3 linked regions of the Homo sapiens genome follow. The protein of the gene in region 1 purifies or fractionates together with the protein of each later gene. This does not show direct contact. Each region holds a gene or a part of one and is shown in the gene's direction. Other genes may lie near its edges.

Region 1 (8,942 bases):
ATTTTTTTCTTAACAAGGAGTCTAGAAGAAGCTGGTCTCAAGGCTTGTGGACCCACGAAGTTATGAAGAACTCATACTTTCTATTTTTCCAGTCTACCGTACTAAGCACGTTAACTTTTATCTGTAGGTTTTTTTTTTTTTTAATCATGGAGTCTCACTCCATCGCCCAGGCTGGAGTGCAGTGGCGCCACCTCAGCTCTCTGCAACCTCCACCTCCCAAGTTTAAGCAATTCTCTTGCCTCAGCCTCCCAAGTGGCTGGGATTACTGATGTGCAGCACGTTGCCCAGCTAAGTTTTGTATTTTTAGTAGAGACAGGCTTTCACCATGTTGGCCAGGCTGGTCTCAAATTCCTGCCCTCAGGCAATCCGCCCACCTCAGCCTCCCAAAGCGCTGGGCGTTAGCCACTGTGCCCGGCCTGCACTATTTATTTTAATTTCTTTTAGGTTTACAGGAAAAGTGGCTAATAATTGATCTACAGCGCCTGGCCTTATCCTTAGGCTTTTGGCTGCTATAGCTCCAACACATCCTCTGGTGGTGGTGGTAGAGGGGTTGAAAAGAATGGCTGGGCGTGGTGTCTCATGCCTGTAATCCCAGCGCTTTGGGAGGCGGAGGTGGGCGGATCACCTGAGGTCAGGAGTTCAAGACCAGCCTAGTCAACATGGTGAAACACTGTCTCTACTAAATGACAGAGCAACAAGAGCAAAACTCCATCCCAAAAAAAAAAAAAAAAGAAGAGATCACAGTTCTTCTTGTACTCTCTCCTGTTTACCAGGAAGAAAATCTTTAATAGAAATTATTACCAGCTGGGAGACCAGGCAGGAGGATCACTTGAGGCCAGGAGTTCAAAACCAGCCTGAGAAACATAGCAATACCCCATCTCTAAAAGAAAGAAACGATGAGAATTATTACACCCAAAGCAGACTTTTACTTACATCTTATTGACCAGAACTGGGTCAATAAGTGCTGACTGCCATTACTAGCCAAAGGGAATGGCATTGTGATGCTGGTCCTACATTAATTATGATTTTCTCCTGGGACTAGGAGCTGGGCCAAGTTTCTTAAATTTGTTGCCACCTCTCTCTTCTGCCCCTTCTCTCTCCACCGCAAAATAAGGACTTGTAACTGTGGAAAAAGTGGGATAGCATCCTACAGATGCATCATAATAGCATCTGTTAAAATTTTCAAAGCAATAATCCAGGAAGATAAAGTACATTTTTCTTTCCAGGAGACTTATTGCCTTACACAAGAATCTTATTCTCATTTGCTCCATACTTTAGCTTCCAAAGCCAACCAAATTTAAACAGTGGAAGCAAAAGATGAATTCAGCATTTATGTATTTTATATAATTCCATTTTAACAAAACTTAACAGTTTAAATAAGATTTAAGTAAAATTTCAGCGTTCCCAACTCCTAAATATCACTCACCCTCACATGGCAAAATATCTATTTTCACAAATCAGTGTAGACCTACTCAGTAATCGGTAATTGTGTGTTCTGTTTTCTCTGCTGCAGCTCAGTAGAAATTACACTTATCAATTGCTACTATTTAAGTTTTTCCCTCATAGCTACTTGTATTGGTAATCCTGTTAGATTTTGTTTTCATGTGAAGTACACGCTATAATGAATACTTTTAGATACTATGAGAAAAAATTAAGTGAAAAATTTAAGCAAAGTTAAAACAAAAATTATTGCTGCTTTTAAATAGACTTTAAATTGGGGTCAAAAGTGGCAGCCTGAAGGTATATTTTATTTTTCCAACAAAATGTTTATAAGTTTTTCAATTTTGAATGCCTTTAAGTGGTCTTGTATTCTCCAGTTTAACACAGGCCCCTCTAACCCTCTTATAGCTGACATCCAAGCACTCGTGGTAACTCCTTATCCCAGTAGGCACTTGAATTTGCCAATCTCTGCTTTGTCTGGATAAACCAAGATTAATAATAAATGAATAATGTTTTCCTATTTGCAGAACATTTTTGACTGGCTTCCAAAATGATCTCTAAAATGAATAATGAACTTTTCTCCAAGACAACTACATTTTTGGCGTGCTGGTTTAAAAGTTTTTGGCTGACATTTTGTCAGCCAAATAGGGTTTGGCTCCCCTATTTTGTCTTCTAAATAGGGGAGAAGGTGGTATCACGTCTTTGTTTGATTTATTTGACGAAGTTGTGTTCCCAGCCATATTGGGTAATTTTGCATTATGAAATTGTGCATACTTTAAACAAGTTGAGTATTCTTTAGTTGAAATTATTTGCTTGAGACCAGAAGTGTTTTGGATTTCAATTAAAAAAAAATTTGGAATATCTGCATTATACTTAACAACGGAACATTCCAAATCAGAAAAATCCCAAATCCAAAATGTCCTTTGAGCAGTTCCCCTGAGTAACATGTCAGTGCTCAAAATGTTTCAGATTTTGGAGCATTGGAAACATCAGATTTTCAAATTTGGGATGCTCTACCTGTATTTATATATTTTCAATTGTATATTTTAAAATATATTTCAAATTTAAAAGACTAAAATGCTTAAAGAAAATAATTAACAGCTTATATATGTTATTTATATAACATATTAATATAAAATTAATTTTATATAAACTTAATATATATTACATATATTGATATGAGTTTTTATATATAATATATATACTTTTATATATAGTATATCTTTCCAGATATTTTACTATATATATACTTTTATATATTTATATATATATATATATATATATCTTTCCAGAGTTCCTTTTACAAAATCTCAGAATGGTTTATAAGTATTTTACACATAATTTATAAAATATTATTTTCTATATAGTATAAAAAATTCACACGGTCTCACAGAATGATAGAGGGAAATTCACACTCACTATCTAGGGTATTAAATCTCCAAGACTACATTCTTCTCTTAATAAAATTGACCTTTGCTAATGTTAAAATTTTTTTATTTAATACTTTAGGAAATAGCTGTGCAATGTTTTAAATGAGTGAAAGAATGTGGGAACTTGGAAAGAAATGTTAAGAAGTCCCATGTTTTTATTCATGGGAACATTGCCTCATAAATCATTTTTGTACTATCATGTTTACTAATTGTGTGGATTTATTAGAGTTCTTTTTGGCCAAAATAATGGTGAGCTACCTGTGTTTATATTAACTACTTTCCTGTCAGCCTGTAGTAGTTTGCTATTATTTTACTGTGATTATTATTTTTTCTCTAATTCCCATCTTCTGTACTACCAGTTCTAGCCTAGTCTGCTTGTATTTCCTCCTCCTTTATTTGTCTAAAAAGATAAACAAGCTTTAATTTGCAAAGGACATGGAGAGTTATGGATACATGATGACCTCTTAAGAACTTCTCCAATGCCAACATTCCTGCAACAAGTCTTAAAATCAGTAGTGTCATATTATTACTATTTATTCTAATATGTGTCCTTAAAAGTTAAAATGATAGAACTAGTTGAAATAGCAAATAACATTTGAAATATTTTTCTGAGATATAATGCAAGAGATAATAAGTATAAAGAGTAACAACACCCCCTGAGTTAGTTGTTTACAACCCTGACTGAACATTGAAATTGCCTGGGGAAGATTTTAAAATTACTGACGCCTAGATCTATTGCCTAGAAATTCTGATATAATTGGTCTGGAGTGCAGCATGGACATGAGATGTTTTTAAAACTTCCCAGATAATTCTAAACTACAACTAATGTTGAGAACCACTGGTCTCAGACTATCTCCAGATTATGTTATTAACCTTGACTACCCATTATAATCAATGGATGTATTTTAGAAACATAGCTTCCCAGACTCCAGGTCCAGAAATTCAAATTCTATTTTTCTGGGATGGAACCAGGCATTGTGTTTCTTATGTGCCCTAATTTTAACGTGAAGTTAAGGTAAGAATTATTGCTCAAGAAACCAAGAGGTTTAACATCGCAATATGGGAAGGTATGATATATTATCATTGTGTTTTTTTTAATTGTTGTTTTATTGATGACAAACCATAACCTTGGCCTGCTAGAAGAGTTCAATGGCACAAATTTAGTTTTTTTTGTTTTAGACGGAGTCTCGCTCTGTCTCCCAGGCTGGAGTGCAGTGGCACAATCTGGGCTCACTGCAAGCTCCACCTCCCAGGTTCACGCCATTCTCCTGCCTCAGCCTCCCGAGTAGCTGGGACTACAGGTGCCCATCACCACGCCCAGCTAATTTTTTTGTATTTTTAGTAGACACGGGGTTTCACCGTGTTAGCCAGGATGGTCTCGAACTCCTGACCTTGTGATCCGCCTGCCTCGGCCTCCCAAAGTGCTGGGATTACAGGTGTGAGCCACAGCACCCGGCCCACAAATTTAGTTTTTTAAAGTAAGTAACTTTGTCTTAAAAATGATTTGTAGTAATAGTCATTAAAAGATAAACTGAGGCACATTAAAATATTAAAGCATTTATTTGACCATTCAGTGATTCATGAATCTGGTAGCTCCTGATAAAGGAGCCAAGGAGAAGGCTTTTATAGGGTGAATTTGGAAGCAAAGGAAAGATATTTGATTGGTTAAAGTGGAGTACTAGACTTATTTGGGTCATCCCAGTGGAAAGTCCCCAGTTAGAAGTTAGCTGGCAGTTTCTGATTGATTAAGCTTAAATTTCCTTTTTATCATTTACACTGATTTGGGTTTCCTTTCCTTAGGTAGGAACTCATGGAGCTGAAGCTACCTCAGCCTACTGGCCTTCTAATTATTTCAACACAGAAATAGTACTTTACGGCACACTGGAGTTGCAATTCTATTCTGCAATTGGGTGGTTTCAGATTTGTTCTTCCTATAAATTTTGGTCAAATTAGTCATTGCATTTCTTTCTATAAGTCTGAGATTCAGATATTTGGTTGCTCTGAGAAAGTCTCTGTTGAGATAGCATTGCCATACTGGTCAGATTGAAAGTGACTTTGTATCCTTTCTATTAATGTTCTGATATGAAAGAGTGATGACTCGGATATAGTGTTAATGCATTAAAAAAGCACAGCCTGACAAATCGCTTCCTATAATACACAGAAAAATGTCTAGTCTTGAATTTATAACACAGGGAAAGGTAAAAAATTTAATTATGCTTCCTAATGTTGAACATGCACGTGACAAAGTAAATACTAAAAATCCATTCAGCTGGGCGTGGACAGGGAGAGGGAACGGTGCACATCAGAGGGTGCAGGCTACTCCAACGTTTCCGTTTCCTCAGTCTCGCGGGAAGCTCCGTTGTGGGCGCCCCGGCTGGTGGCTGAGCTCAGGCCTTCAGGCAGAGGGGAGGCGAGGGCGGGGCGGTCACGTGAGAGCACTGCCGCGGTGGGTTGTGGGGGTGCTGCGGCGCCGTTTGCTTTGCCAAACCGACAAAAGAGAGATGATGGCCAACGACGCCAAGCCCGACGTGAAGACCGTGCAGGTGCTGCGGGACACAGCCAACCGCCTGCGGATCCATTCCATCAGGGCCACGTGTGCCTCTGGTTCTGGCCAGCTCACGTCGTGCTGCAGTGCAGCGGAGGTCGTGTCTGTCCTCTTCTTCCACACGATGAAGTATAAACAGACAGACCCAGAACACCCGGACAACGACCGGTTCATCCTCTCCAGGGGACATGCTGCTCCTATCCTCTATGCTGCTTGGGTGGAGGTGGGTGACATCAGTGAATCTGACTTGCTGAACCTGAGGAAACTTCACAGCGACTTGGAGAGACACCCTACCCCCCGATTGCCGTTTGTTGACGTGGCAACAGGGTCCCTAGGTCAGGGATTAGGTACTGCATGTGGAATGGCTTATACTGGCAAGTACCTTGACAAGGCCAGCTACCGGGTGTTCTGCCTTATGGGAGATGGCGAATCCTCAGAAGGCTCTGTGTGGGAGGCTTTTGCTTTTGCCTCCCACTACAACTTGGACAATCTCGTGGCGGTCTTCGACGTGAACCGCTTGGGACAAAGTGGCCCTGCACCCCTTGAGCATGGCGCAGACATCTACCAGAATTGCTGTGAAGCCTTTGGATGGAATACTTACTTAGTGGATGGCCATGATGTGGAGGCCTTGTGCCAAGCATTTTGGCAAGCAAGTCAAGTGAAGAACAAGCCTACTGCTATAGTTGCCAAGACCTTCAAAGGTCGGGGTATTCCAAATATTGAGGATGCAGAAAATTGGCATGGAAAGCCAGTGCCAAAAGAAAGAGCAGATGCAATTGTCAAATTAATTGAGAGTCAGATACAGACCAATGAGAATCTCATACCAAAATCGCCTGTGGAAGACTCACCTCAAATAAGCATCACAGATATAAAAATGACCTCCCCACCTGCTTACAAAGTTGGTGACAAGATAGCTACTCAGAAAACATATGGTTTGGCTCTGGCTAAACTGGGCCGTGCAAATGAAAGAGTTATTGTTCTGAGTGGTGACACGATGAACTCCACCTTTTCTGAGATATTCAGGAAAGAACACCCTGAGCGTTTCATAGAGTGTATTATTGCTGAACAAAACATGGTAAGTGTGGCACTAGGCTGTGCTACACGTGGTCGAACCATTGCTTTTGCTGGTGCTTTTGCTGCCTTTTTTACTAGAGCATTCGATCAGCTCCGAATGGGAGCCATTTCTCAAGCCAATATCAACCTTATTGGTTCCCACTGTGGGGTATCCACTGGAGAAGATGGAGTCTCCCAGATGGCCCTGGAGGATCTAGCCATGTTCCGAAGCATTCCCAATTGTACTGTTTTCTATCCAAGTGATGCCATCTCGACAGAGCATGCTATTTATCTAGCCGCCAATACCAAGGGAATGTGCTTCATTCGAACCAGCCAACCAGAAACTGCAGTTATTTATACCCCACAAGAAAATTTTGAGATTGGCCAGGCCAAGGTGGTCCGCCACGGTGTCAATGATAAAGTCACAGTAATTGGAGCTGGAGTTACTCTCCATGAAGCCTTAGAAGCTGCTGACCATCTTTCTCAACAAGGTATTTCTGTCCGTGTCATCGACCCATTTACCATTAAACCCCTGGATGCCGCCACCATCATCTCCAGTGCAAAAGCCACAGGCGGCCGAGTTATCACAGTGGAGGATCACTACAGGGAAGGTGGCATTGGAGAAGCTGTTTGTGCAGCTGTCTCCAGGGAGCCTGATATCCTTGTTCATCAACTGGCAGTGTCAGGAGTGCCTCAACGTGGGAAAACTAGTGAATTGCTGGATATGTTTGGAATCAGTACCAGACACATTATAGCAGCCGTAACACTTACTTTAATGAAGTAAACTAGGCTTATTTCTAAAAAGTCAAGTCTATTGGCTTTGGCCCAAAAGCACTGGTATCTTTGTATTAAATTCATGTTTATTGTCACAAAACCATTATTTATACCTATACAGTTGTACTGTTTCTTTTAAAGCAAAGCCATTTAACATCTTTCTTCATTCCTAATTTGGAAATTAAAGTTTACCTTTCTGTTAATCTATGTATAAATGTTACTCTGAGTTATTAATGTGGATTTTAAAATTGTAAGCAATAGAATAGGAAATAAAACAACTACCTAATACAAATATTTCTGATAAGACTACAAATATCTGACTGAGCTGGGGATTAAAGTAGAGGTAACTGTATCTTAAATGAGTATGATTTCCTTGTAAGTTAAAAAAATTGAAATTTAATTGTAGACTTCAATAGTCCAAGTTTTGAAGGATGTTTGAGCTTTTGTATAATGCCATTTATACCTGCAGTTTTACAGATAATGTTTGACTGCAGTTGCCTTGGAAATTCCTCCAAAGTTTGCCTTCATCTCTCCTCTACAGTTTGGAGGTGATGGTGCAGCAGTGGAACATCTCTTGATGCACCACACTACTTGTGTTCTGTGAAGTGATGAAAGTATAACTGGTTCTAGTTTGCACACTACACACATAGTTTTGTGAAGCTTCAGAAATGTTTTTTCTTTTCCTTGTGGCCAAACCAGTTTGTTAATCTGATTATATTCATCTGCTAATGATACTAAAGTTAATGTAATAAAGCATTTAAAAATCAGATACTTCAGTCTGTGCTGTGTATGTGGGATTTGATTTCTTCCTGATGAAATCCTAAATAAGGAGAACTTGTGTCTAAATAAGAAACAGAGAGAGTCATGACCCCCAGAAGCAAACCTGGAAAAAGGTTGAAGCTGGAGATAAGTTACTAGAGAAGATTGTATGGACTAAAAAGCCATCCCTTAAGCAGACTCCTGACTTTTGGCTGTCAGTGTGTAAATATATGCTTGGAGTACAAGAAAGTACCAGTCAGGCAAATCATAGATGGACCCAAGGTTCCAAACTAAATTAAATTACTCTGTGTCTATGTCAGGTAATTATTTCCTTACTTTTATTACCCTCATTAAGTTCTTTGGAGGCATAACCAATTTGTCTCAGCAATCATTGTCTTAGGAGGTATAATAGAGCCAAAAAATATTAATACTAACCTGGGAATTAGAGAAACCAGGCTCTCCTCATCTGCTACTACCCGTTTTCTCTAAGCTAATTTCCTCTTTTGTAAAATGATTACGAAAATTGCTCTGTTTTTTCATAAGATTTAAAAATTACTTTGTAGAAATAAAAAGTTGACATAAAATCATTGCAGAAGTTTAGAAAATGCAAATAAGTAAAATATGTTTACCCCCCGTTTCACACACACAAAAATCATTTAATTGTATTCACAGCATGTTTTCTGTACATGCTGTGAAAGTGGGCATGTAAAATGGTCTGTTTCCAACCAAACATGCATAAGCACACCTTTAATAATGACAGTAGATCAGATTCTTTATGTCTAATGGAATCTCAGACACCACCAGAAATTATATTTTTTGTAGCTGGAGGGGAAGCCCTTAGGAATCTCTCTTGTAAAGACTCTGTTCCACAAGTTATCAACCAGAGGCTATGAGCTCCAGAGAGAAGAAATAGCAGGTGAGTCTTATGTCCACAATTCTTC
Region 2 (7,116 bases), on another chromosome or scaffold:
CAGCCTCCCAATGTACCGGGATTACAGACGTAAGCCACTGTGCCTGGCTCACATTATTTCTTGGTACTAAGTCATCAAAATCTGGTGTGTATTTTCTACTTACAGCACATCTCAATTTGGATCAGCCACATTCCAAGTACTCAGTAGCCACATATGGCCTGTTGCTGCCATATTGGATAGTACAGCTCTGTAGTAAGATCCAGCCTACCCCACCCCCACGCGTCTGGCCTGGCCAATAATGCCCTGCCTCCGCTTCTTGTCTCCCCTGCATTTCAGACATCAACGAATGTGAGCACAGGAACCACACGTGCAACCTGCAGCAGACGTGCTACAATTTACAAGGGGGCTTCAAATGCATTGACCCCATCCGCTGTGAGGAGCCTTATCTGAGGATCAGTGATAAGTAAGTCACGGCGTCCCCCTGGGGAATAGAAACCTGATGAGGGCCTGGCTCAGGAGGTTGGAGGTGTGGTGTGAAAGAGAGTGCACCAGCCAGGAAGTGAGGGGACCTGGCCTACTACCTACGTCATGTGCTCATGCGTGTGTGTGTGTGTGTGTGTGTGTGTGTGTGTGTAGAATAGAACAGAGTAGAATAGATAGAACAGACTGGAATAGAAAATATCAGAGTACATTGCACATAGCAAGAGTCAATATTGTTTTTTGAAACTTATCTTTTAGTTTTGTGTGCTACTGGTTTGCAGTGCAAAGTGTGTTACTGTAGGTTGTCAAAAAGTTTGCAAAACATTCCATTCCAAGTTATAGGGTCTGAAACACATCCCTATATACAAGAAAGAACTATTTTTCAAAATGTTTGACCACAACACACAGTAAGAAACACATGCAAGGCTGGGCACGGTGGCTCATGACTGTAATCGCAGCACTTTGGGAGGCTGAGGTGGGTGGATTGCCTGAGCTCAAGAGTTTGAGAGCAGCCTGGCCAACATGGTGAAACCCCATCTCTACTAAAAATACCAAAAAAATTAGCTGGGCCTGGTGGCACGGGCCTGTAGTCCCAGCTACTCAGGAGGCTGAGGCATGAGAATCGCTTGAACCTGGGAGGAGGAGGGTACAATGAGCTGAGATCGTGCCACTGCAGTCCAGTCTGGGTGACAGAGTGAGACTCTGTCTCAAAACACACACACACACACACACACACACACACACACACGCACGCACACTCCCACAGAGTTCTCTATCACTCCGCTACTCATGCCAGAGCTATGCAAAGATTCTCTAGAAAGCTAACCAAGCCGAGAGTTGAGTCAGGGTTCTAGAATCTCCTCTTCCCTCTAATGACTTTGTTCTGGATACATGGGGTCTTTCAGAGGTTGGCTTCTAAATGTAACACTCATAGGACTCACCTGGTGATCTCGTTAAAGTGTGATTCAGTGGGTTTGGGGTGGGGCCCAAGATTCCGCCTTTCTGGCAAGCTCCCAGGTGAAATGAATGCTTCCAATCTCCCTGGACTGCTCCGTGAATATTGAGGTGCTGGAGAGTTGAGTATTGAGGTGCTGGACAGTTGAGTATTGAGGTGCTGGAGAGTTCTCTCGTTGGTGCTAATCAAGTTTCTGACGTCATCTTGGTCAACATTTTACTAAATCACCAGACGGCAAATATTAGAGTTGAGGAGAGAATTAAAGTGAAGACAACTTCCAAAAGGTGAATGCAGTAGGACAGTGGCTTTCTGTTCCTGGCATAGTAGGAGTTCCTTTTCCTTCTCTTTTATCCCTTTTTTAAACCATCTCAGTTCCTCCTTGGCCTCCTATATTCCAAATGTTCACACATCGACTTCCCTTGAGCAACACCAAACCCCGCATGGGAGACGAAAGGATGAATCAGACACACCCATCCTGCCCTCTCGGAATACAGCCTCTAAGAGAGGAATTCATGGCTTACCAGTGGTACCCACTTTGATAACAAATTGGCAAAAGAGAGGATAATGCCGGGACAGGCGGATCCTTTAGGGACATCTTCACTTGTTGCTAAGAGCTGTGCTACTAAGCAACCCTTTAGAACAGGGCTCTTTGACCCCCGACGTAAGGCCTGTTTGTGGCAGAGCAGAGCTCCAGGCTGCTCTTCCCAGCTTCTATTCCTGGTTCTCTCTGGGTTTTTCCAGGCCACCCCGTCTGTGGCTGGGGAGCTGACCCATTTCAGCTTGCAGCACTGAGCTGGAGTTACTGGTGGAGTCTCTGGCATGACGCTGACAATGCTCCGTGACTCCCTCACTCCAGGCTCCAGTCCAGTCAGACTCCGGCAGCCCCTTCCAGCTCCTTGTCCAGTTCAGGTGTCCTGTGCTCCTGCCAGTCTGAACAGGACTTGCTCATGCCTTTACCCGTGCCCAGGAATGGCCAGCCTCCCTTCTTGTGTGCACATACTTCCGGCCATATGGAAGGCATTCCTTTCATTTCCACATAGCCAGTCCTGCCCCATCTTTCAGATTTCAGCTCAGATGCCACCTCTCCCAGCTGTTTGTGGTCCTCTTCAGCTGGGAGCCATCACTCCCTCCTCCAAACTTCTTTTAGGAAACAATGATTTTCTATGCTGCACATGATACTTTATTGTGGCCATTTTGGCACTAGAGACATTTTGACTTGGCTATTTTGATGCAGCCTTAAAAAAATGAAACTTGCTCTGCCACCCAGGCTGGAGCGCAGTGGTGCAATCACAGCTCATTGAAGCCTCAACCTTTTGGGCTCAAACAATCGTCCTGCCTCAGCCTTTTAAGTAGCTAGGACTATGGGTGTGTGCCAGTGCTCCTGGCATATATATGTATTTGGTAAAGCCAGAGGTCTTGAACTCCTGGACTCAAGTCATCCTCCTGCCTCAGCCTTTCAAAGTGCTGGGATTATAGGCATGAGACACCATACTCTGCTCAGAATGAATGGAAATTTATAAAAAGGAAGAGTAGGCTGGATGGTTTAGATGGAGGAGTCCAAAGGCCTCTCTGAAAAATGACACTTGGGCTGGAATGGGAAAATGAGTTGACTTTAACTAAATAGAGAGTGGAAGATCAGAAGGAACAGCATGTGCAAAGGCGAGAAGGCAAGAGTGCATTGAAGGCACTGGAGATGGTTGGATGTGGACTCTCTTTTGGAAGTAGAACCAACAGGTTTTGTGGATAGATTGGAAGTTAGTGGCAGAAACACAGCAAGGTTGACTCCTAGCGTTGGCCACCACCGCGCGTCTCAACAGACATCTTCATCCTATTGTGAACCCTGGCCCCTAGGTGGAGTCTCAGGGCAGGGTCAGAGACAGAGGAAGGGGGTGTTAGGGGTGAATCAAGGGGTGTCTATAACAGGCATTCTTTGGTAGTAAAAGTCAGTGATTTTATATTAGGGCACTCTGTTAATAGTTGCTTTGTATTAGAGATATTTGTGTCTGTGGTTTATTTCTCCTATTAGAAAGTAAACTATCTGAGGTCAGGATCTTATTATTCATTGAATTTCCAAAATGTCCAATGTCACATCTTGTACATAGTTCTAACTCTTGCTTATCAATTATCGAATGACAAGATTTGATTATATTCGATTCAGTAACATTCCATGCAGACTGGGCTGAGCACAATAGAGAATGTACAAGGATCCCCAAGACCTGTTAATCCAGTTTCTTACTTTAAAAATTTCTTTCTTTCTTCCTTTTTTTTTGTTTTGTTTTTTTGAGACAGGGTCTTGCTCTGCCGCCCAGGCTGGAGTGGCATATTTGGCCTACGTGGCAAATGTAAAGTATCTTGGAGAATGTTCTAATGTTCTGAAAACCAGAGATCTAAGGTTTGTATTCTATTTAGTAGCCAGAACATCTGGTTGGTGAGAAAAGTCCATTCTCTAGGAAACAGAGCTCGCCTACATGCTGGAGAGATTTTAGACTCAAGCCAGGAGCAGAGACATTCTACAGTTATGGCATTTGGATGCTAAAAATGGGGTGGCCTCATTTTCAGTGTTTTAAGAGAGGAAGTAGGCACAGCCAGCACCTGGAATGGATTTCTTGAGTTCTCACGTGATTTCCCTTTCCACAGCCGCTGTATGTGTCCTGCTGAGAACCCTGGCTGCAGAGACCAGCCCTTTACCATCTTGTACCGGGACATGGACGTGGTGTCAGGACGCTCCGTTCCCGCTGACATCTTCCAAATGCAAGCCACGACCCGCTACCCTGGGGCCTATTACATTTTCCAGATCAAATCTGGGAATGAGGGCAGAGAATTTTACATGCGGGTAAGAGGGAGTGGGGAGTGGGGACGCCATCTGTAACAGTGGCCTTGTGCTGTCTCTCCTAGGAACGTGCTGTATGCAAGCAGGTAAGAGTGGGGCTGGGGGACAGGTAGGCAGAGAGAAGAGTGGAGGGTGTGGTTCAAGGTCCTGGTTTCCACCACTTTCTGTGTAGTCTTGCAAAAGATGCTTCTCCTCCTGAGCCTCAGGATCCTCATCTGTGAAATGGGAAGTTAGGCCAAGATGCAATCTTAGGTCTCTTTTCTCCTAATATTCTGTTGGAGAGGCATTCACGTCTCCACTTTTCAACCAACCCATGTGACAAGTATTTCTTAAGTACCTCCTATGCAGGCCAGGCACGGGGGCTGATGCCTGTAATCCCAGCACTTTGAGAGGCCAAGGTGGACAGATTGTCTGAGCTCAGGAGCTCAAGACCAGCTTGGGCAACATGGCAAAACTCTGTCTCTACAAAAAAAAAAGTTAGCCGGTCATGGTGGCAGGCACCTGTAGTCTCAGCTACCTGGGGCAGTGTGGCGGGGAGGTGGTGTGAGATGGGAGGATTGCTTGAGCCCAGGAGGTCGAAGTTGCAGTGAGCTGAGATCACACCACTGTACTCCAATCTGGGCAACAGAGCGAGACCCCATCTCTGAAAAACAATAAAAACTTGGTGACTTAAGGCAAAGGAAATTTATTCTCTCATAGTTCTGGAAGCCAGGAGTCTGAAATCAGTTTCACTGAGCTGAAATCCAGGTGTCAGCAGGGCTGTGCTCCCTCTGGAGGCTCTAGAGGAGAATCCGTTCCATATCTCTTCCAGCTTCCGGGGGCCGCCAGCACTTCTTGACTGTGGCTGCATCACTCCAATATCTGCCTCTGTGGTCACGCTGCCTCCTCTTCCTCCTCTGTGTGTATCAAATCTCCCTTTGTCTCCTTCTTATATTAACACCTGCGAGTAGATTTAGGGCCCATTCAAACAATCCAGATAATCTCTCTGTCCAGATTCTTAATCACATCTGCAAAAACCCTTTTCCTTATAACGGAACGGGTTCCAAGGATTTAGGACTTGCATCTTTTTGGGGGCTACTACCCAGCATACTGCACCCAGGAATCTGCATTTCTAACAGATGCTGCTGTGATCTTCCAGGGTCACTGTGGGGAGCCATATTGAAAAGGTCCATGGGCGTTTATATGCTTTCATTAGAGACTGGGCCCTATGAAGTCATGGGCCACAAGGCAGGAAGACAGAAATCTTCCCGATAAGGCTGGCTTTCCGAGGGTCCATGCTGTCTGAAGCTGCGGGACCCTCCCCGGGAAACCACTCAGTCATTCTAATGTGAGCTCTGGAGCCATGTCTTCTACAGTTTAACAATTTCACAATTGTGTGATGTGACCTAACACCTCTGGACCTCTAGATGAGTGTTTACTTTAGGATTAGATGAGATTATCCACTTAGTGCCCTATCTGGAATACAGTTTTTATCAAAGAAGTGGAGTTTGGTGGTGGGGGTGAAACAGTCAATGACTTTTTCTTTTTCTCACGCTGTTGGATCAAACCTGTGAGCACCTGGGTTACATCTCACGTCAATTCCCTAGGATTCACAGGCATGTTCCATTTCTATTGGATTGTCTCATTCTCTCACGTCAAAAGTCTGTACTAGTTTAAATGGAAACTTCAACCTCTCTGTCTCTTACCCACTGTGAAGTTTCTCCCTGTCTCCTAGTTCAGAGCAGGCAAGGGGTGTGGTTGGCCTCTGCCCTGTCCTCTTGTCACCCTCCCGGTAATGGTAGTGCTGGCCCTGGCTCCTCCAGGGCTGGCAGGGGAGGAGCAGGTGGTAGAAAGGGTAAGGCTGGAAGAGTGAGGCTCCTCCCCGATTGTAGCCATTGTAACCAGGCATTGGTATTCCCTCAGGAGCAGAGCCCCCAAAGCTGTTGCTCTCACAGGGTGCTTTTGTGGGTCTTTTGGAGATTTGCCTGAGGACTTCACACTGACCAGTCCCTGATATGGGCAGTAGGGCCTGTGGTTGGTCACCTGCTACTCCAAACCTCTCAGCCCCTAATTCTGGGGCTATGTCTCATACAGATGTGCCGTGGTGGTAGTGAGGTGGAGGGTATCACTGCATCCTGGCAGCAGACCTTACACAAGGGCCTTTCAGGATGTCAACATCAGCTCCTTGCATTCCCCGTTCCTCTCTATGGTGTGGGGCAGCTCAGGGCTCACATCTCCAGACTTCTCCTGGAGACAGTCTGGTACCACTTTCTGCATCCTTGAACTTCAGGGGCCTGCATCTCTAAACAGTTTTTCTTTTTTTGAAAACCCCTCTTGATTGAGATGGAGGCTAGTAAGTGTGTTTAATAAAATATATGTAGAGTTGGGCACAGGGGCTCATGCCTGTAATCCCAGCTACTCTGGAGGCTGAAGTGGGAGGATCCCTGGAGCCCGGGAGTTCAAGTCCAGCCTGGGCAACATAGTGAGACCCTGTCTCTACAAAAAAAGATTAAAAAATTAGCCAGGTGTGGTGGCATGACCTGTAACCACAGCCACTCTGGAGGCTGAGATGAGAAGATAACTTGAATCCAGGAGTTCAAGGCTGCAGTGAGCTATGATTGCACCACTGCACTCCAGCCTGGGTGGCAGAGCGAGACCCTGTCTCTAAAAACAAAAACAAACAAACAAAAAAGTATGTATGTAGGCTGGAGGGGGTGATGGAATGAGGGAAACATCTGGCTTTGGATCACAGCTTTGTAAGTCCTGTATAACCCCAATAACTCCACACACAGCATCAGCAGCAAGCCGTGTATAGTGCCTGTATGTGCCAGACACTATTCTAAGTGCTTTCTATACAGTAACCCTTTAATCTTCACAAGAATCCTATGATATAGGATGGTTTTATCGTCCAGATTTTACAGATGAGAGCACT
Region 3 (7,116 bases), on another chromosome or scaffold:
AACTATTACATAGACCTGCATGGTTTATTGAATAACTTATAAACCACAAAGGAAATTAAATTTACAGTGTTTCTGAAGTTCAAACTTTTAAACTGTTTCATTCTATCCTAGCAAGTTCTAAACTTTTTTTGGGAAAGTGTTCTCAAACCTCAAAGTTGAATTAAGAGCATGAAAAGCCCTGTTATTAAAAAGGTACAACCAAAAGATCTAGGAATACCAAATTAGACTTGAGACCTTTGGAAATCACTCGCTTTACTTGAACCAAACACTGTGGATCAGTAAAGTTTGCATCTCTTAGCCTTATGTGCAAATGAAGCTAATAATGGTGCCTATTTCAGGGGTTGTAAAGATCATGAAAATGGGGTTCTCAAACCTGGAGAGATTTTGTCCCCCAGAGGGTATAATTTAAAACAGTCTAGAGACACTGGTCATCAGAGTTCAGAGTGGTGGCAGGGATGGTCTGTCTGTCTCTTGTGGATAGAAGTGGGAATGTTGCCAAATAACCTGCAGTGCACAGGACAATCCCTCACAGCGAAGAATTATCTGGCCCTAAGTGTCAATAGTGCCGGGATCGAGAAACCCTGATATAAAGTGCTTATCCTGGTATAAGGCCAGGATACCAGATGATTTAATTTATGCCATCAGTAGGGGGTCCTATTAGTAGAAAAATGAAGCTTTCTACTTGAAGTTTTTTTTTTTCAACTCCTAGTCCAGCCTAAGGATTAATTTTTTTTTTAAAAGGATAAAAGTGCTTCACAGTTGAATAACTTGAATATTCCCCCCTTTTATTTATCTATAAAAAGTGAAATGAGAGGGGAAAAGCAGCAAAAGTCATGGAGAAACAAACTTACATTTGTTTATAGATGTCAATTTTAATAAAATGTTTATGTAGTAGAGAAATTTCCAGTGTTCAGATTAACTTCAATTCTGAAAACTCATCTATGTTTGAGAATACACTCTTTTTACAGGGCAAACTTATATCATTCTTATGTTATCTTTTAATCATTTTTAATATGTTAACATTTTAATTTTTTTATTTTTTGGAATCTTTGCAGGCATTGTAAGCATTTATTAATTTTTTTGTGTGTGTTACTTTTCTTATAGGTGTTACCTCATTTTGAAAGTCTTGGGAAACAGGAAAAAATTCCTAACAAAATGTCAGCTTTTCGAAATCATTGTCCACATTTGGATTCAGTTGGTGAAATAACAAAAGAAGATTTGATACAAAAATCCCTTGTAAGAAACAGGTTTTTTCTTCCTTGAAAAACTATTCACTTTTCTCTTGAATGTGTAATTTTCATAAATTACTGTAATACTCTATGAGCAGTATTTTAAAAATATGTATGATGTCATTAGTGCATTAGTGAATTGTATGTGTTTGTGTCAATATAACCAATGTTGTCTTTTTAATTTCTTTTTATAGGGTACTTGTCAGGATTGTAAAGTCCAAGGACCAAATCTTTGGGCATGTCTGGAGGTGTGTATATGTTTTTTCCTGAAAAGATTGCTATAATAATAATAAATTTGGATCTGAATAATCATAACCAGAAAATTTTTGATACTTAAAGTGATTTTTGTAAATTAAACTTGCTTTTAAAAGGTCATTATTAATAACAAAAATTAAACTTTGGAAAGATCTTAATCTGTAGTGCTTTTGTAGTTTTTAGTAAATCACTCAGCTATTTTATGCTTGCCTTTTATTAGAAATGACATAGCTTTTAGCTTAGAAATATATCCTGGTTTTATTTTGTGCCTGGAAACATTTGGTTAAATTTAATGACTGGAAAGTCATTTACTCATTGAATGTAAAACAGGTAATCCAAACTTAATTGTAAATGTAATTGTAATGCTGTTATAAATTTACATGTATATTATAAAGTACCTTATTTTTCTTCCTATATAATTATTTATAGAATAGATGTTCATATGTTGGCTGTGGTGAATCACAAGTAGATCACAGCACCATACATTCTCAGGTATGTATATAAAAAATTTAATGGAAGACTTGTTAAAAAAAGTGCCTGAAGGAAAGGGAAAGCCAGTATAACATTATTAATTCAAGTTGTAATTCAAATTTGCACTCTAAGTTAAAACTTCACTTACATTCTCTGTGAAGGATGGGGAAGGGAATTGCTAGGAGGATGAACATTAGAATGAGGTTGTGATTAAGAAAGCACTGATTTCAAAAGTGTACATCCGGCCAGGCATGGTGGCTCACGCCTGAATCCCAGCACTTTGGAAGGCCAAGGCAGGTGGATCACCTGAGGTCAGGAGTTCGAGACCAGCCTGGCCAACATGGCGAAACCCTGTCTCTATTAAAAGTACAAAAAAATTAGCTGGGTGTGGTGGTGGGCACCTGTAATCCCAGCTACTCGGGAGGCTGAGGCAGGAGAATTGTTTGAACCTGGGAGGCGGAGGTTGCAGTGAGCCGAGATCGTGCCATTGCACTCCAGCCTGGGCAACAAGAGCGAAACTCCATCTCAAAAAAAAAAAAAAAAGTGTATATCCAGATATTTGAAGGTGATAGCTGGCATATTAGGAGGTTGAAGCCCAAGAGAGAGTGGGTGCTTAGGTTTATGACATGGCCTGGCTAACTTCTTTAAGTCTCAGCTCATGTCATATTGCCTTTTCCTGCACATAGTCCTAACTGGACTCACCTTTCTGCTTTGCTCTGGTTGTTTGGTACTTCCCATGTAACTCTGGCATGCCTCTTCTATAGTGTTATGTAGAGCTCCCATTCTAAATGGAAAGTTTCTCGAATGACTTTGTTTTAAGATGCACATTGATACCTCTACAGCATCAACTGTTCTCAACCAGGATTCCTCTATAGAATTAATTAAGCCTGAATACCCAAGCTCTGAGTCATCATTGTATATCATTTGCCTCTTTCTGTGCATCTAAGATGGTATTTGCTGTGTACCACCATTGGGAGAATTGATAAATTAGTCACTCAGATCATTTTTTGTAGGGCTTAATTCTGTAGCAGAACTCTGGTTGTGAAAGGCTAGACTTTTATCTTTCCAAGATTATATATTCTGTATTGCTAGAGCTGTTTTATGCCTTGACTCATGTCATTTGTGTTCTTTTGCCATTCTGATTTCTTAGAATAGTTACTTGCTATTGTTAATTATTTTCTTGTGTTATATTTATTTGTAGACTGCAAAGCAAGGTCTTACACTCTTGCGTTTATCTTTTTGTATAATGAATAGTGAGGGGAGAATGGCAGAGTAATTTCTAGAGTAGGCTTAGATGTTGTTACTGTTTATTATACCTTAGAAGTTTATCTAAAGAATTTTTTTCATGTTCTAAATTAGCTTTTGAGTATATTGTTACTCATCAAAGGCAAGCAGTTTATCTTCTGTTATCTTTTGAAGAAGTCTTTTCAAGTATATGTAATTTTGGTTCCTCTTTTCCCTCTACTGTGAAATTATATAGGAGACAAAGCATTATCTAACTGTGAACCTTACCACTCTTCGAGTATGGTGTTATGCTTGCAGCAAAGAAGTATTTTTGGATAGGAAATTAGGAACTCAGCCTTCATTGCCTCATGTAAGACAACCTCACCAAATACAAGAAAACAGTGTCCAGGTAATAATCTAGATCCACTTAGTTAAGCTGTAAAACATTCCGGTAATAATTTCAGAATTTGTCATGTAGCTGAAATTTTCAAAAGGAATACTGCCTAACCTGTACTTTGAAAATTTCTGTAATGTGCCTTTTTTCTCTCAAATAAAGCACTCAGACTCCCCTTTCTTGTGTTGCTTAGAGTGCTAGATTAGGGTGAGATTGAAGCCCACCTGTTTGAAGATGGAAAAGGCCCTAATGAATTTTTGAAGTTTTTTTTTTTAAATGACTCAAGTAGTCTTTATCTTTTTCTGGTAAGTCTGATTTCAAGAAAGGTGGTGGGCCTTCTTTGATAGCATATGGCAGTTACTAATTCAGCTCTCTTCCCCGTTCTCTCCTCCCCTCCATCCCCTTTGTATTACTGTGAACATTTTACTTATTATTGACAACAAAGTAGAATATAATAAAGCTTAGCATCAGTCTTTGGGTTAAAGATTTTTCTCCCTTTGGGCTGGGTGCGGTGGCTCACGCCTGTAATCCCAGTGCTTTGGGAGGCCAAGGCGGCTGGATCACGAGGTCAGGAGATCGAGACCATCCTGGCTAACATGGTGACACCCCGTCTCTACTAAAAATACAAAACATTAGCCGGGTGTGGTGGCGGGCACCTGTATTCCCAGCTACTTTGGAGGCTGAGGCAGGAGAATGGCGTGAACCTGGGAGGCAGAGCTGGCAGTGAGCCGAGACCTTGCCACTGCACTCCAGCCTAGGTGACAGAGTGAGACTCCATCTAAAAAAAAAAAAGAAAAAAAGATTTTTCTCCTTTTGGATCAAGAGACTTAGAAAACACATGGGTTTGCTTGCAGAATTTATCACTTAATTTTCAGAATTCTTAAAGTCATAGAAAAATAGGAAAAAGGAAATTAACTTAGAATAGTTGGCTTCTTAATCAGATCATCAGTTGATCAGAATTTGATCAGATTTGATTAACAGCAAGTTTTTTTCCTCATGTGTGTTATAGAAATCACATATTTCTGTACTTGTTCATTGATACCAACTGTCAGGTTTTTCTGTTGTATGTTTGTATCACATTCTTATGGTAGATATTTGTGATAATAAATTTGCTTGCCTTACACATGAAAGATGGCTAGATTTTAGTCAAAGAATAATTTCTTGCATTTTCAGTTTCTCAGTTGAATGGCTCTAGTTAATTATAACCATTACTGTTTCTCCCACTTATACCTATTTATCATTCACAAACATGTTTAGTCTTTTTCAAAAGTCCAGATAGTATGAAAATGGCCGTTTCGTTGAATCCTCTTACATTATTAACAAAAGTTTGTCCCACTGAAGATAGCTGAATGGTAATAAGTAGAAAAAGTTTTAAAAAAGAAAAAAGTGTAATGTTATGACTAAAGTTTAATCACACAAGGAACTAATAATATATAAAGGCAAAACTATCAGCATCACTTACTAGAGAAGTAAGTTAAATAAGCTATCTGTTGCCATTTCTGCCAGAAAAGATCAAGATTACAAACTTTAATAAATGTTGAATCTGATAGAATAAGTATACTGATACTTTCCTGATGGCTTGTTAATAATTTTCTGATGACTTGTAAATATGTTAACACATAAAAGGCATAAACTTAATTTCATTCAACTTCCTTATGATCCCATTGTTGAAGAAATTATTCAGAAGAAAACAGTGGTTCAGATAGATTTCTTTAGTGGTCCAAAACTTATATGCTGTTGAAATCCAGTTTACCACAGGATATTTGCAAAATAGTAAAATATTGGAGGCCATGCAAATATTAATAAGATTTTTCAAATAGACATTTTTTCTAGATAGTAAAATTTCAGGTGATTTAAGCCTCTGTACTTCTGTGTATTTAGATATTTTGTAGTGAGCATGTATCTTTTTAAAAGCAATTACTTTATGAAAACAAAATGAAAGTATGAAGTCCACTCAAATGTCCAGTCTCTACAGATGTCAGGAAAGTAAAATCGTTGGGAATTAGTGCATATGCCTGCATTTTAGAGGTAAAGTAAGGCTATAATAACTTGGAGAACCAGAGTACATGCTAAATTCTTTCTGCTATTCAGTTTCCTTCTCTGTTTGGGTGTTGCTGAATGTTGGTTCATTGTAGTTCAATCTTCTGATATTACAAGAGAACTTTCAAATTTTGATTTTTATTTGTCGTCTCCGAATTTTTTAAACTTTAGCTCAAAGTTTTTTTCGTTTTTTTTTTTAAAGTGTTTACTAGCATTTGGCTAACAGGTTATCAGTTGCAACCTCTGAGTCAAGCCAATTGTTGGAAATTAATATTAGAATATTATTATTTAAAGTAAGTGCTTGAACTATTTAATATACGTAAAAGTGTGCAGGCCGGGTGTGGTGTCTCACACCTGTAATCCCAGCATTTTGGGAGGCCGAGGTGGGCGGATCATGAGGTCAAGAGATCAAGACCATTCAGGCCAACATGGTGAAACCCCTTCTCTACTAAAAATACAAAAATTAGCTGGGCGTTGTGGCATGCACCTATAGTCCCAGCTGCTTGGGAGTCTGAGGCAGGAGAAGCGTTTGAACCCAGGAGGTGGAGGTTGCAGTGAGCTGAGATCGTGCCACTGCACTCCAGCCTGGCAACAGAGTGAGACTCTGTTTCGGAAAAAAAAAAGTGTGCAAAGTAAATACAGTAATAAGTATCAGGAGAGATTGTAGAAGTCTATAGATAATGTGTTATGATGAAAAACTTTTGCCTTTTTCCCTGTTGAAAATGAGATCTGAGAAGACAGTGTAGGATAGTATCCTTCGGAGATCTTTTTAGCTATGGTTTACTGTCACATAATTGCAGTTATTGTGGAGTTTTAATTCAGAAAATTCGGTTGTAAAAAGTGCCTTTTTAACTCAAATATATATGTTAATAAAGCGGGACTGACATGCTATTACCCTAGGGTTTTATTTCCTTCAAAATATAAATGTAAGTTTAATTGCTAATACCACAAATTCTTATGGTTCCACTATTAAAATAACATCTCAATAATTTTTATGGTATAGATGTTATATAAGTTACAATTAAAACTTTTTTTAAATTTAAGGATTTGTTCAAGTGTGCTATCTTTTTTTGTTATCAAGGATTTTAAAATACCCAGTAATACAACATTAAAAACTCCTCTGGTTGCCGTATTTGATGATCTGGATATAGAAGCGGATGAAGAAGATGAACTTAGGGCCAGAGGTAAATTAATCCTGTGTAACGCTTCTTTGTATGGCACTGCCCATTTCTTTAGAAAACCATATAATGTAAAAGTTTCAAAATGTGGAGGTAAAATGGGCTTGATAATTAAAACAAAAGGACTCTGAAATTTGGCCTAGTAAAATTTTATTTGCAAAACAAACTTTTGGTTTCTCTGGTGTCAGTTTACCAAAGGTAGGATCCTACTTACTCTTTTGCAGTTGAGCCTTATGATCTTTTTGTTTAACTTGCCTTTTGAGGTCTGTTTGAACAGTGTTTCTCATTTTTCTATTGTCAGTGATGGGGAGGTATTAGGTATAAA

What was found.
Region 2: the proteins of TKTL2 (region 1) and FBLN5 purify together in Homo sapiens (affinity purification with mass spectrometry; 2 studies listed by BioGRID and IntAct, with this or other methods). This does not show direct contact.
Region 3: the proteins of TKTL2 (region 1) and USP33 purify together in Homo sapiens (co-immunoprecipitation; 3 studies listed by BioGRID and IntAct, with this or other methods). This does not show direct contact.

Annotation. Positions count from the first base shown.
Region 1 is NC_000004.12:163,470,164-163,479,105, reverse strand, and holds TKTL2 (transketolase-like protein 2), read left to right. Parts: upstream 1-5,351; 5' UTR 5,352-5,371; coding exon 5,372-7,252; 3' UTR 7,253-8,011; downstream 8,012-8,942. UniProt on the Homo sapiens protein: Plays an essential role in total transketolase activity and cell proliferation in cancer cells; after transfection with anti-TKTL1 siRNA, total transketolase activity dramatically decreases and proliferation was significantly inhibited in cancer cells.
Region 2 is NC_000014.9:91,874,579-91,881,694, reverse strand, and holds part of FBLN5 (fibulin-5 isoform 1 precursor), read left to right. Parts: intron 1-276; coding exon 277-403; intron 404-4,012; coding exon 4,013-4,208; intron 4,209-7,116. UniProt on the Homo sapiens protein: Essential for elastic fiber formation, is involved in the assembly of continuous elastin (ELN) polymer and promotes the interaction of microfibrils and ELN. Stabilizes and organizes elastic fibers in the skin, lung and vasculature.
Region 3 is NC_000001.11:77,735,737-77,742,852, reverse strand, and holds part of USP33 (ubiquitin carboxyl-terminal hydrolase 33), read left to right. Parts: intron 1-1,104; coding exon of another isoform or gene 1,105-1,155; coding exon 1,156-1,236; intron 1,237-1,423; coding exon 1,424-1,477; intron 1,478-1,913; coding exon 1,914-1,976; intron 1,977-3,435; coding exon 3,436-3,588; intron 3,589-6,694; coding exon 6,695-6,797; intron 6,798-7,116. UniProt on the Homo sapiens protein: Deubiquitinating enzyme involved in various processes such as centrosome duplication, cellular migration and beta-2 adrenergic receptor/ADRB2 recycling.